3 linked regions of the Homo sapiens genome follow. The protein of the gene in region 1 interacts with the protein of each later gene in a pairwise test. Each region holds a gene or a part of one and is shown in the gene's direction. Other genes may lie near its edges.

Region 1 (3,649 bases):
TAACACATTTTATATTTCAGAGTACAGTTTTGCCTACCTTCTAGCTAAATGTATGTCCCATGTTTGGTTTAGATGAAGAAGTCAGTAAGTAATTCCTAAAGATTTGATTTTTCTGGTTTATTTTTTATAGATTCAGAAGGTTTGTAACAAGAAACTATGGGAAAGATACACTCACCGGAGAAAAGAAGTTTCTGAAGAAAACCACAACCATGCCAATGAACGAATGCTATTTCATGGTAAGATTCCTCCCCACCAACTCTACCACTGTCTTCCACATTAGGATAGTTTTTTTGTTCAGATATGAAATAATAATAAGCCTGTATATTCTTTATGTCAGTATTTTAAGATAAACCTACTATTTCTGTAACTTTCACATTTATATTTTCAACTTCTTTTGAATTTGTGTATTTTATAATGGATTGTTTTTAAATAAGATTACCACAATAAAAATAGAAATGAGAGTGTTGACTATCTTTTCCTTTTTTCTTTAAATAGTAAATTTTGCTTATGGTCACTCTAGGAAATTTTGTGTTTTCCATTTAACTAGTTGATTGAATTAAAAATAAGACCTGGGAATCACCTCAGAAGAAGGTGTACATCCTATTCTGATTTTGATTCTAAGTATCAAACCCACACAATTTGAAAAGAGCCATTGTTATTGAACCTGTAGAGGTTTCTGATGACTGTAGAATTGAAACCATAGAATTGAATTGAAAGCACAATTACTTATTCTTCTTGGAATTTTCTACTTTTTTTGTATTATAAGCTGGCAGGTGTTGATTAGTCTTTCAAATTTTAGCAAAGTTAAACATATTAATGTAGTATTTATGAGGGCTTCAAGTACATTACCCATAGTAGTTCCAGTCTGTTTCTTCATTTGTCCTTGATTGCAGAAAAATTTTAGAGACCTGTAAAGTTCTCTAAAACACAGTAAATTTCATAATACCCTGGGAGAATGGCTGTAACAGAATGGATTCATGTGCAGAATCTAAACATGTTGCACTCCTTATTCCAAAACCCTAAATAATTATCATGATAATCTCTTGACACAGAGCATATTTATTTATCTGTTAATTGATGGTTATAATATGGTTTTTCTAATTTGTAATATAAATAATTTTGGTTTTCCCAAGTTAATTCAAAAAATGATTCTATTCATCTGTATTTCTGTAAAGTAGAATTCAGTATATTTTCCTGTCTGTCTGTGGAAAGGGAATGTGATCTTGATAAATGAATTAGCTGTGGTTTTTTGACTTTTTCCATCCCCCACTCTACTCCACTCCCAAGGAAAGAGGAGAGAGAAGTCAATGTGCAGGGGGTGAGGGAAAGCACCACATTTGCAGATAGAATCTTGTATCGTAATTAATGAAAGGCAGAAGTGGAAGGATAGAAGAGAAGAGGTATAAGAAAGAGAATAAGAATGTGAAAGTTGGGCCGGGTGCGGTGGCTCACGCCTGTAATCCCAACACTTTGGGAGGCCAAGGTGAGTGGATCACCTGAGGTCAGGAGTTTGAGACCAGCCTGACCAATATGTTGAAACCCTGTCTCTACTAAAAATACAAAAGTTAGCCAGGCATGGTGGTGTGCACCTATAGTCCCAGCTACTCAGGAGGCTGAGACAGGAGAATTGCTTGAACCCGGGAGGCAGAGGTTGCAGTGAGCCAAGATCATGCCACTGCACTCCAGCCTGGGCCACAGAGCGAGACTACATCTCAAAAAAATTTAAAAAAAAAAAGAATGTGAAAGTCTACTTGGGCCACTTGGTATCTTCAAAAAAGCACACAGGCATAGGCATCATTCTAAGACCTAATTGCATTTAGCTTTGCTATCTAAAGTGAATTATGAGCCTCTTGGTTTTAGATTTTTATGGATTTGCAGTCTGGCATTTGGTAACTCTTACACTGATATTTCAAGTACTCTGTTTTTCTAGTTCAATCTGTGTCCTTATTTTAGCACATAAACCAGCACTCTGTTAGAAACATTAGTTGATGTTAGCAGTTCTTTATTCTAAAATAGCTGGCTGACAGTTAACTTGTTACCCTTTTTCGTTTTGGCTTTATTATGGTTGGGCTATATATTTAAGAATTCAGTTTCTAAGAAACTAGTTTTTTACTTTTTATTCTAAGATAAATTTTAAATTATTGTTACCCATCTATATGTGTTTCAGGGTCTCCTTTTGTGAATGCAATTATCCACAAAGGCTTTGATGAAAGGCATGCGTACATAGGTGGTATGTTTGGAGCTGGCATTTATTTTGCTGAAAACTCTTCCAAAAGCAATCAATATGTATATGGAATTGGAGGAGGTACTGGGTGTCCAGTTCACAAAGACAGATCTTGTTACATTTGCCACAGGTAAGAGATCACTTGTTCTCATTTATTTTGGTGGTAATCAGATAAGAACTAGTTGCATTTTTGAGGGCAAAGCATTATGTTGGACAGTCTTAGGAATGCAAGCTAGGCATGTTTTAGATTGCTTTTGGCCCTCTCACCAATTGTAATAATAGCTAATATTTATTAAATGATCCGTATGGGCCAATTATAATTTAAGCACTTGACCTGTTTGGCTAATTTAATCATTAGAATATCTGGTGCCTTAAAGCATACTGAGTAGAAAGTAACATTAGGCATGAAAGAGGCTTTATTGTAGCCCTTGAGTATTGTAGGACTCTGTGGACTCTAAAAATCTAGTATTCAAATGCTAAAATGGCATTATTTGTCAAATCTAATTATTTGATGGCAGTGCCTGAGCCTCTCTTCCACTGTGATACGATCCTAATCCTCAATTTGCAATATTACTATAAGAACTTGAAATTAAAACATTGATCCTTTTTGAAAGGAAATAATAATCAAATAACTACTTTGCACTTTTTTTTTCCACTTTTAATTACCTGTTCTAACTCACTTGTTAAAAATCATTTAAGTAACTTGTCCCTAACTTATAAAATCCTTATAGGCAAAAAGTAATGCCACTTGAAAAATCCAGTAAGATTAATTCCTGAGATTTATTCGACAGTTAGGGCACTGCTTATTGAATATACAGAGCAGTAGTTTATCAAGCATTAGCATGCATTAGAGTCACCTAGATGGCTTGTTTAAATCACAGATTCTTAGGCTCCACCTTCTCAGTTGCTGATTTAGTAGATCTGGGATGAGACTCTAGAATTTGAGTTTCTACCAAGTTCCCAGATGTGACACTGTATTTCTGACCACTGATCTAGAAAAAAACCCCTAGAGCAGTACTTTGCACTTTGGCAGCACATTGGAATCACCCAGGGAATATTAAAAAACTATTAATGCCTGTGTCCCACCCTCACAGAATCTCTTTTAATTGGTCTGGGGCATGATCTGGATATTAGAATTTTTAAAAGCTTCCCAGTTGATTTCAAAGGGCTTCCGAGCTGAAGAATTGCAGTCATGGAGGGAAACAGGTTCTTTCTTTGTGTTTGTTTTGTTCTTACTGTTACCCCTCTAAATTTAGGCCTGCATAGGTAGTACACAGTAGGCCCTCCTATGTATGACGTCCCACTCACTTCTATTTTAGATCATAAATTGGAGTGGTTAGGAGGCATGTAATTTCCTGTAAATTGAACACTGCTGTTTTTATTTGTCATATATGGTCTGAAGGCTAAATAGTTCTGATTATTAGT
Region 2 (3,649 bases), on another chromosome or scaffold:
AAAAGCCAACCTTTTCAAGCTGTAAAAGGAGGAACCTTTTAACCAGAGAGCCCTTGGATATAAGCCTGATGTTTTAAGTTAGGAAAATAAGCATTTTCCCACAGATCCATTGATCAGTCAGCTTTATTTATTTATTGAGACAGGGTCTTGCTCTGTCACTCAGGCTGGAGTGCAGTGTCACAATCTCGGCTCACTGCAGCCTCAGCCTCCCGGGTTCAAGCGATTCTCCAGCTTCAGCCTCCCAAGTAGCCAGGACCAAAGGCTCACACCACCACGCTGGCTAATTTTTGTATTTTTAGGAAAGATGGGTTTTGCAATGTTGGCCAGGCCGGTTTCAAACTCTGGAGCTGAGAGCGATCTGCCTCCCTTGGCCTCACAAAATGCTGGGATTACAGGTGTGAGCCACTGCGCCTGACCAGCTTTTTAATTCACTAAGTATTTATTGAGCACCTACTACGTGATGGGGGCAATTTTCGGTGATGGGGACAGAGCAGTGAAGAGAATGGACAGAAGTCCCTGCTTTTCTGAGGCTTACATTGCAGAGGGGGTGGAAAACGCAATAAAAAGTTAAAATACACATGGTAGGTTATCTGATGTATACAAAGGAGGCAAAGAGCTGGAAGGGGACTCAGCTGGTGGGTGTTTGGAGGCAAGGGGAGGGAGAGGAATGCAGTATTGTCTGGAGAGAGTGAGCAAGCCTCAGGCCATGTGGGGGAAGAACATTCCAGCTGGAGGGCGCATCAGGGCTAAGCCTGGCTTAGCTGAGGGCCAGCAAGGGGGCCTTGTGCCAGGCATGGGCGAGTAATGGATGGAAGAGGAGGCAGTGAGTCAGAGATAAATGGGTCATTCAGGTGTGCGACAGCCCTGCTAGGTGAGATAGTAAAACTCAATATGCTGATGTAATTTTTAAATGCCTATTTTATAGGTCTGTCTCTTTTCAAATGTTTGTTAAAACAGAAGCCACACTGAGAATTTCTAAGTCTAATCAGAATAAAGATTTGTAATATTTTATGCCCATGTTTATGTGGTTTTAAGCACAATTTGTAATGTTTTCATCATTTCCCGTGCTTGCTCTGAAAGTGGGCTGTTCCAGGGCTGTGAAGGGGTCCGTCCTTTTCCTCATTGCTCAGGTCAGGTGGGAATAGTTTCTGCTTATACTTGCAGGGTGGTTTGAAAAATCTTTGTTTCTGAGTATCTGTGTTCCTCAAACATGCTTAAGCCAGCACTCATTATCTCTGCCTTTCCTCCCTCTGAAAACCAGCAAATGTTTTCTCTTAAAACTTTTTTTTTTTTTTTTTGGACCCAAGGAGCAATGGTACAAACAAAAACTCTGTTTTGAGCTTAGAAACTTGGAGGTGAGAGTAAACTGGAAGCTGCCCGGCCCCTCCCTCATGAATTATTAGCACAAATCAGGAGAAAAATTCCTCTATCAAAGGACAGTGATACGTCCCAGCACTTTCTCCATTAAAACGTGTGGGTGGAATGCACTAGGGACTAGGTCCTGTAAGACTCAGTTGTGCTTCGAAGAAACTGCTAGGGAATGTTTGAAGCATAGATAGACCGGGGGAGGGAGGAGTAACTGTTTCTTGAAGCTGCACCAGATTCCAGGCCTGGTGGCAGGCTGCCCGGTCTAAGCTGGCAGAGCCCCTACACCCCTGACCTTCTTGTACACAGGTGAGATCTGGTTGAAGTAAACATTGGCCTGGAGGCCTTCCTGCAGCAAATCCTGTGTGGGGCACTGGGGACCAGGGTGGTCAACAAATAATCAGGCACGTCCCTGCCTCATGGAGCTTGCCGTCTCCTGGATTCAAGCAAGCAATTGTAGTGGGGTGAGGGGGATTCTAGGAGAGTCACTCAGGGCCCTTTGAGAGGCCAAAGCTTTGTTGAAATAGGGGGCATCAGAGTTGAGGCCTGCAGACCCCAGATAGTCTGAAGAGATAACATCAGCCTTAAAGTGGAGGAGGAAGAGAGCTGACGGTACAGACATTGTCTGCAGGTTGAGGAAGGTTGGGGTGGGGAGAGGTGGAGTGTTAACAGGACCTTTGGTGATTGGTTGATTATAAAGAAAAAACACATGTGTGGTCTTTGCGTCTCTTCAGGGTAGCCTGAGCCAGGGCTGCTGCACTGCCCCCATAGCTCTGACTTGAAGTTTGGCCATCAGAATGGTGGTACTGAAGGCCTTGGGCTTCAGTGGTCCCCCCATACTGCTTATTTCCCTTTGGGGAAGTAGGTGAGTGGAGAAACATTTGAAACTTGTAGAGTGACTTAGCTATAGGACAGCCGGCAAAGCTTGGCCTCTGGAGCCAGACCGCCTGGCATTGAATCCCAGCTCCCTCTTCATAGCTGTGGGACCTCTGGCAGATTATGTAATTTCTGTGCCTCAATTTCTTCTTCTTTAAAATGGGATTGTGTCTCAGTTTTTGCTGTGAAATAACCAAAACCCAAAGCCGTGGGGAAGGGCAGGTGGAGGGAAGACAGCTGTCTTGACATCAGGTGATACAGGCTGAAATCAGAGGTCTGCTGACTTCTAGGGATACTTGGCACATGGAAGCCTCAGTCTCTTTGTCTTTGAATCTGGGGGCTGCAATTCTTGCCTACATCCCTGGGTAGCCTGGAGGATGGTAAGGGATGCTGTGTGAGAGAGTGCTTTGAGAGCTGCCCAGCCTGAGTGGACAAGAGGGCCCCCTGTGTGCTTGGCTGGCAGGGAGGGCTGAGACCCGCTGGGCGCTGCAAACAGAGAAGGTTCCAATGAGATGTCCACTGGGGCCAAACTGGCCATGGGGCCTGGCAGTGGCTCTGTTGTTCTCTTCCCCCAGGTCCTGCCATGACCTTTCTTTGTCAGATTGGCACTGGGAAGGGGGTCAGAGGGAGGGCTCATACAGGCCAGGATTACAGCGGGATGGACTTTGTAGTCACTGGATCAGCAGGGCGTTGCGCTGTGGCCTGCCTGCTGTAATGTGAAAATTAGTTTCCCTGAGTGAGCCCTGCTTTATTTATTTATTTATTTATTTATTTATTTATTTATTTGAGACAGGGTCTCAAAAACCGGAGTGCAATGATGTGATCTCTGCCACTGCAACCACTGCCTCCCAGGTTCAAGCGATTTTCGTGCCTTAGCCTCCCGAGTAGCTGGGATTACAGGCATGTGCCACCACACCCGGCTAATTTTTGTGTTTTTGGTAGAGACCGGGTTTTGCCATGTTGGTCAGGCTGGTCAACTCCTGACCTCAAATGATTCGCCTACTGCAGCCTCCCAAAGTGCTAGTATTACAGGCGTGAGCTACTGCGCCCGGCCTCCCGCTTTGTTTTTGTTTTTTCCTGAGACAGTGTTGGTCTCTGTTGCCCAGGGTAGGGTGCAGTGGCACAATCATAGCTCCCTGGAGCCTCGAACTCCTGGGCTCAAGTGATCCTCCCACCTCAGTCTCCCAAGTAGCTGGGACTACAGGAGTGCGCCACCACGCCTGGCTAATTTTTGTTTTTGTAGAGATGGGGTCTCTCCTTGTTGCCCAGGCTGGTCTCAAACTCCTGGGCTCAAGCAGTCCTCCTGCCTCGGCTTCCCAAAGTGTTGGGATTACAGGCATGAGCCGCCACACCCGGCCTCCCAGGCTGTTCTTGGACAGACTGACCGTGAGGACAGTTGTGACACTGG
Region 3 (3,649 bases), on another chromosome or scaffold:
TGGCCAGGCTCTGACTGCTGGGACTGTCCCCCCGCAGGGAGGTCAGGCCTCCTTCCCCACCCCATCTCCAGGGGCTTCTTTTTTCAGGTTGCTGAGGGGTGGGAGCTGTCTGCAGAAGCCGGGGTTGTGGGAAAACTCAGCTGGAGCTCCCAGGAGGGGCATGTTTGATTCTGTGACCCTGCAGTGTAGAGACTGTGCCCTCCTGCTTCTCTCTTGTACGAGTGTCCCCAGCCCTGCTTGCTTATCTCTGGCGATAGATAGGGAGCTCACTCCTTCCCAGCAGCCTGGTCAGTCCCTGCCCTGGAGGGAGTGTTCTCCACTTGGAGCTGACATCTGCCATCTCCTCCATGCCCCCACCTCCCGCCCCACACATACACGCCCCATTGGGAGCAGCTGTGGAGATGTGAGGACAGTGAGGTCTGCTATTCTCCCAGGTGAGCCACCCCAAGGGGCCTGGGCCCCCTCACCACGTGGGCCACTCCCTCTCGACACATCCCAGATGGTCCTTTCCCCTCCTGAGTGGACATACAACCATCAGACAGCACCAGGATACTCTGAGCTGCATGCATTTGGGGGGGCCCAGACGACTTGGGGAACCTGGGAGCTCACACCCCATGTGACATCTCAGGGTGGCCAGAGCTCTGTGGCTTGAAACAGGAGTTGGAAACCTGAATTTTTATGTGAACGTTTTCAATTTATGCATGCTGGTAACCAATTTAAAATGAGAAACCCACTGTGTGAGCCAAACGAAAGCACTTATGGGCCAGATAATGCTGGTGGGCCCCCGACTATGACCTGAGGTATGGTGGAACACGTTCACTGGGTGGATGCAGAACCAGGGCTCAGAGAGGGCCAGGGCCGTGCCTGGGGTTGCGCAGCAAATGTGGAAAATGCAGAGTCAGGCTTGGGCCTGATGTTCTTTATCATTGCCCTGGGCCTGGAGTGGGGAGATGGGCAAGCCTGAGGTTTGGGATTGCTTAAGCATGGACAGAATGTGATGCTGGGGGCCTGGGGGGCCAAGGGGCCAGGTCACCCTGGGGGCTGTGCCGGTGAGCAGAGCAAGGGGATGGACTTGGTGGACCGGGTGGTGGGGCAGGGTGGGCTGGGAAGGAAGTTCTTCTGGAAGAAGTTCTAGGACAGCCCTGTGTCCTGTGGCTGGGGTACTGTCCTCTCAGGACACAACGTTCATGCCTAGGTGTGTGATGCACCTGAAGGCAGGAGGGCAGGGAGCTTGGGTCTCAGTTCACCAAAGATTTCCTTTTGTTTTGAGACGGGGTCTCCCTCTGTTCCCCAGGATGGAGTGCAGTGGCACGATCTCGGCTCACTCCAACCTCCGCCTCCGGGGTTCAAGCAGTTCTCCTGCCTCATCCTCCTGAGTTGCTGGGATTACAGGCACACGCCATCATGCCTGGCTAATTTTTGTATTTCTGGTAGAGACAGGGTTTCACCACGTTGGCCAGGCTGGTCTCGAACTCCTGACCTCAAGTGATCCGCCTGTCTTGGCCTCCCAAAGTGCTGGGATTACAGGCGTGAGCCACCTCGCCTGGCCAAAGATTTCCTTTCTTAAAAGACACTGTCAGCTGGCACGGTGGCTCATGCCTGTAATCCCAGCACTGTAGGAGGCTGAGGCAGGAGGGTCGCTTGAGGTCAAGAGTTCAAGACCAATCTGGGCAACACAGTGAGACCCTTGTTAAAAAAAATTAGCTGGGTGTAGTGGTGTGTGCCTGTAGTTCCACCTACTCAGAAGGCTGAGGTGGGAAGATCGCTTGAGCTCGGGAGGTTGAGGCTGCGATGAGCTATGATCACACAACTGTGCTCTAGCCTGGACAACAGAGTGAGACCCTGTCTCTAAAAACAAACAGAAAGAACTGTTGAGAGTGGACCTGAGGGCCTCTCCCTTGCAGTCTGGAGGGTCCTTGCTTTTGCTGACTGGGAGTAAAGGCCCTGATTCTCCCAGGGGCCCATTCCTAATGTCAGTGGCTTTACGGAGTCCTCCAGCTTCCTGAGGTGGCACCTCAGTGTGAGGGCAGGGGCGTCAGCCCTCGAGGCCCCAGAGGCTCCCTAGCACTCCGCCGGCCCTGAGCCTGGTCTGGGCATGGGCTTCCATCTCCCTGCCCGTCCATGGCCCTCCACCGCAGCCTTCCCTGCCTCGGTCACACAACTCCCCCTTCCAGGCGCTCCTGGACTTCTGTCTTCTGTCCGCTGCATCCTATCCATCAGCAAATCCTGTGGGTCCTACCTTCAAAATAGATCCCCTGTGCCACCATCTCCTGCCTCTCTTCGCTCACTGCCCTGGGCTCTCTCACCTGCTCCCTGCTGGCTCCCGTGTCTCAGCGCAGTGGGCAGCTGGGTGGGTCCCTTGCACTGGAGAGTCCCAGGCTCCAGCGCTTACAGGCACGCCCAGAGGCCCTCACAGCAGGCTGGAAGCCCGTTGCTCTGCAGTTACCACCCGTGTGCTGATGTGGCTCAGCCCTGGGGGCCCTCTCTGTCCTTCACCTTTCTGCTGCTGGTCCGGCCTCAGCCCCTTGGCCCTGCCACTCCCTGCCTGACGCCCTCCTCAGAGAAGCCCTCCTCTTCCGCCGGACTGACACGGGCTCCCCTGACACTGCCACGTCCTCCTTCCGTCTCCTTGATTCCCTTCATTTATTTCATCATGGGGCTCATGCCTGCCTGGCGTTCAGTTCTCTACAGATTTGCTCTTGGGTTTATTATCTGCCCCTCCACCCCTGAGGGTGTCAGTGCTGTGAGGACGCTGGGAACCTGTCTTGCTGGCTGATAAACCCCTGGTTCCTAGAGGGGCTGGGTGCAGAGGAGGCGTTCCTTTAGAAATGGGGCAGGCTTGGGGACCACTGCTGTGGTAACGAGTCCTGCTGTCCCTCTGTCACTGCCCTATGGGGCTGCGCTTTAGGCTGGGAGTCGGAGAAGGAGCTCTTGCCTGTGACTTTGGGGAGCACGCTGTCTATAAGAGTCAGGTACGGCCACTGGGTCACAAGTGGGGCTACAGGCACTGGGGACTTGGGCCAGGGTGGAGGAGGGAGGAGGCATGAGGACTGGTGAGAAGGTGGCATTTGAGTGGCTTGTGCAAGATGAGAGGGGAGAAGAGCCCTTGGGGGAGTTCAGGCCTAAGGGCCTGTGGGAGGGTCGGGTTGGGATGGCTCCTGCAGGGCCTTGAGTGCCAGGCTCAGCTGGGAATCCAGACCTTTCCTTTCTGGCCATGGGAAACTGGGGCGGGCTGTGGGGCCGTGGCATGTCGGGGCCAGCTGCTCTCAGGCCAGACTGGGTTCCCTGGGAAAGGGGAGGAGTGGTGGGCAGGGAGGTGGCGGGGCTGTTCCAGTGGAGATCAGAGCTGAGACTGGAGTGGGGACAGGGCCTAGAGATGGAAGGAAGGGGTAGAGACCGTGGGGAGGGAGTGGAGACAGATTGCGGGGAGAATGGACATGACTGGGGGAGTTGGTGGGGTGTTAGGGACAGCAAGGCATCAGGATGCATTTGCCAGTGCTACTGGGGAGGGGGACAGGAGCGTCCCCTGGGGCTAAGCCTGCAGTCCCGAGGGTCTCAGAGGTGTGTTCCTGAGTCCTAGGGTCTGCGGGCTGGGGCTGTAGGGGGCGTCTTGTTCTTGCCTAGCATTTCCCCACTGACTGTATTTTCT

What was found.
Region 2: the proteins of TNKS2 (region 1) and SH3BP5 interact in a two-hybrid assay, tested with the Homo sapiens proteins (one large-scale study listed by IntAct).
Region 3: the proteins of TNKS2 (region 1) and FBLN2 interact in a two-hybrid assay, tested with the Homo sapiens proteins (one study listed by IntAct).

The regions. Positions count from the first base shown.
Region 1 is NC_000010.11:91,857,295-91,860,943, forward strand, and holds part of TNKS2 (poly [ADP-ribose] polymerase tankyrase-2), read left to right. Parts: intron 1-130; coding exon 131-236; intron 237-2,167; coding exon 2,168-2,354; intron 2,355-3,649. UniProt on the Homo sapiens protein: Poly-ADP-ribosyltransferase involved in various processes such as Wnt signaling pathway, telomere length and vesicle trafficking.
Region 2 is NC_000003.12:15,322,506-15,326,154, reverse strand, and holds part of SH3BP5 (SH3 domain-binding protein 5), read left to right. Parts: intron 1-3,649. UniProt on the Homo sapiens protein: Functions as a guanine nucleotide exchange factor (GEF) with specificity for RAB11A and RAB25. Inhibits the auto- and transphosphorylation activity of BTK. Plays a negative regulatory role in BTK-related cytoplasmic signaling in B-cells.
Region 3 is NC_000003.12:13,566,109-13,569,757, forward strand, and holds part of FBLN2 (fibulin-2 isoform a precursor), read left to right. Parts: intron 1-2,631; exon of another isoform or gene 2,632-2,972; intron 2,973-3,649. UniProt on the Homo sapiens protein: Its binding to fibronectin and some other ligands is calcium dependent. May act as an adapter that mediates the interaction between FBN1 and ELN.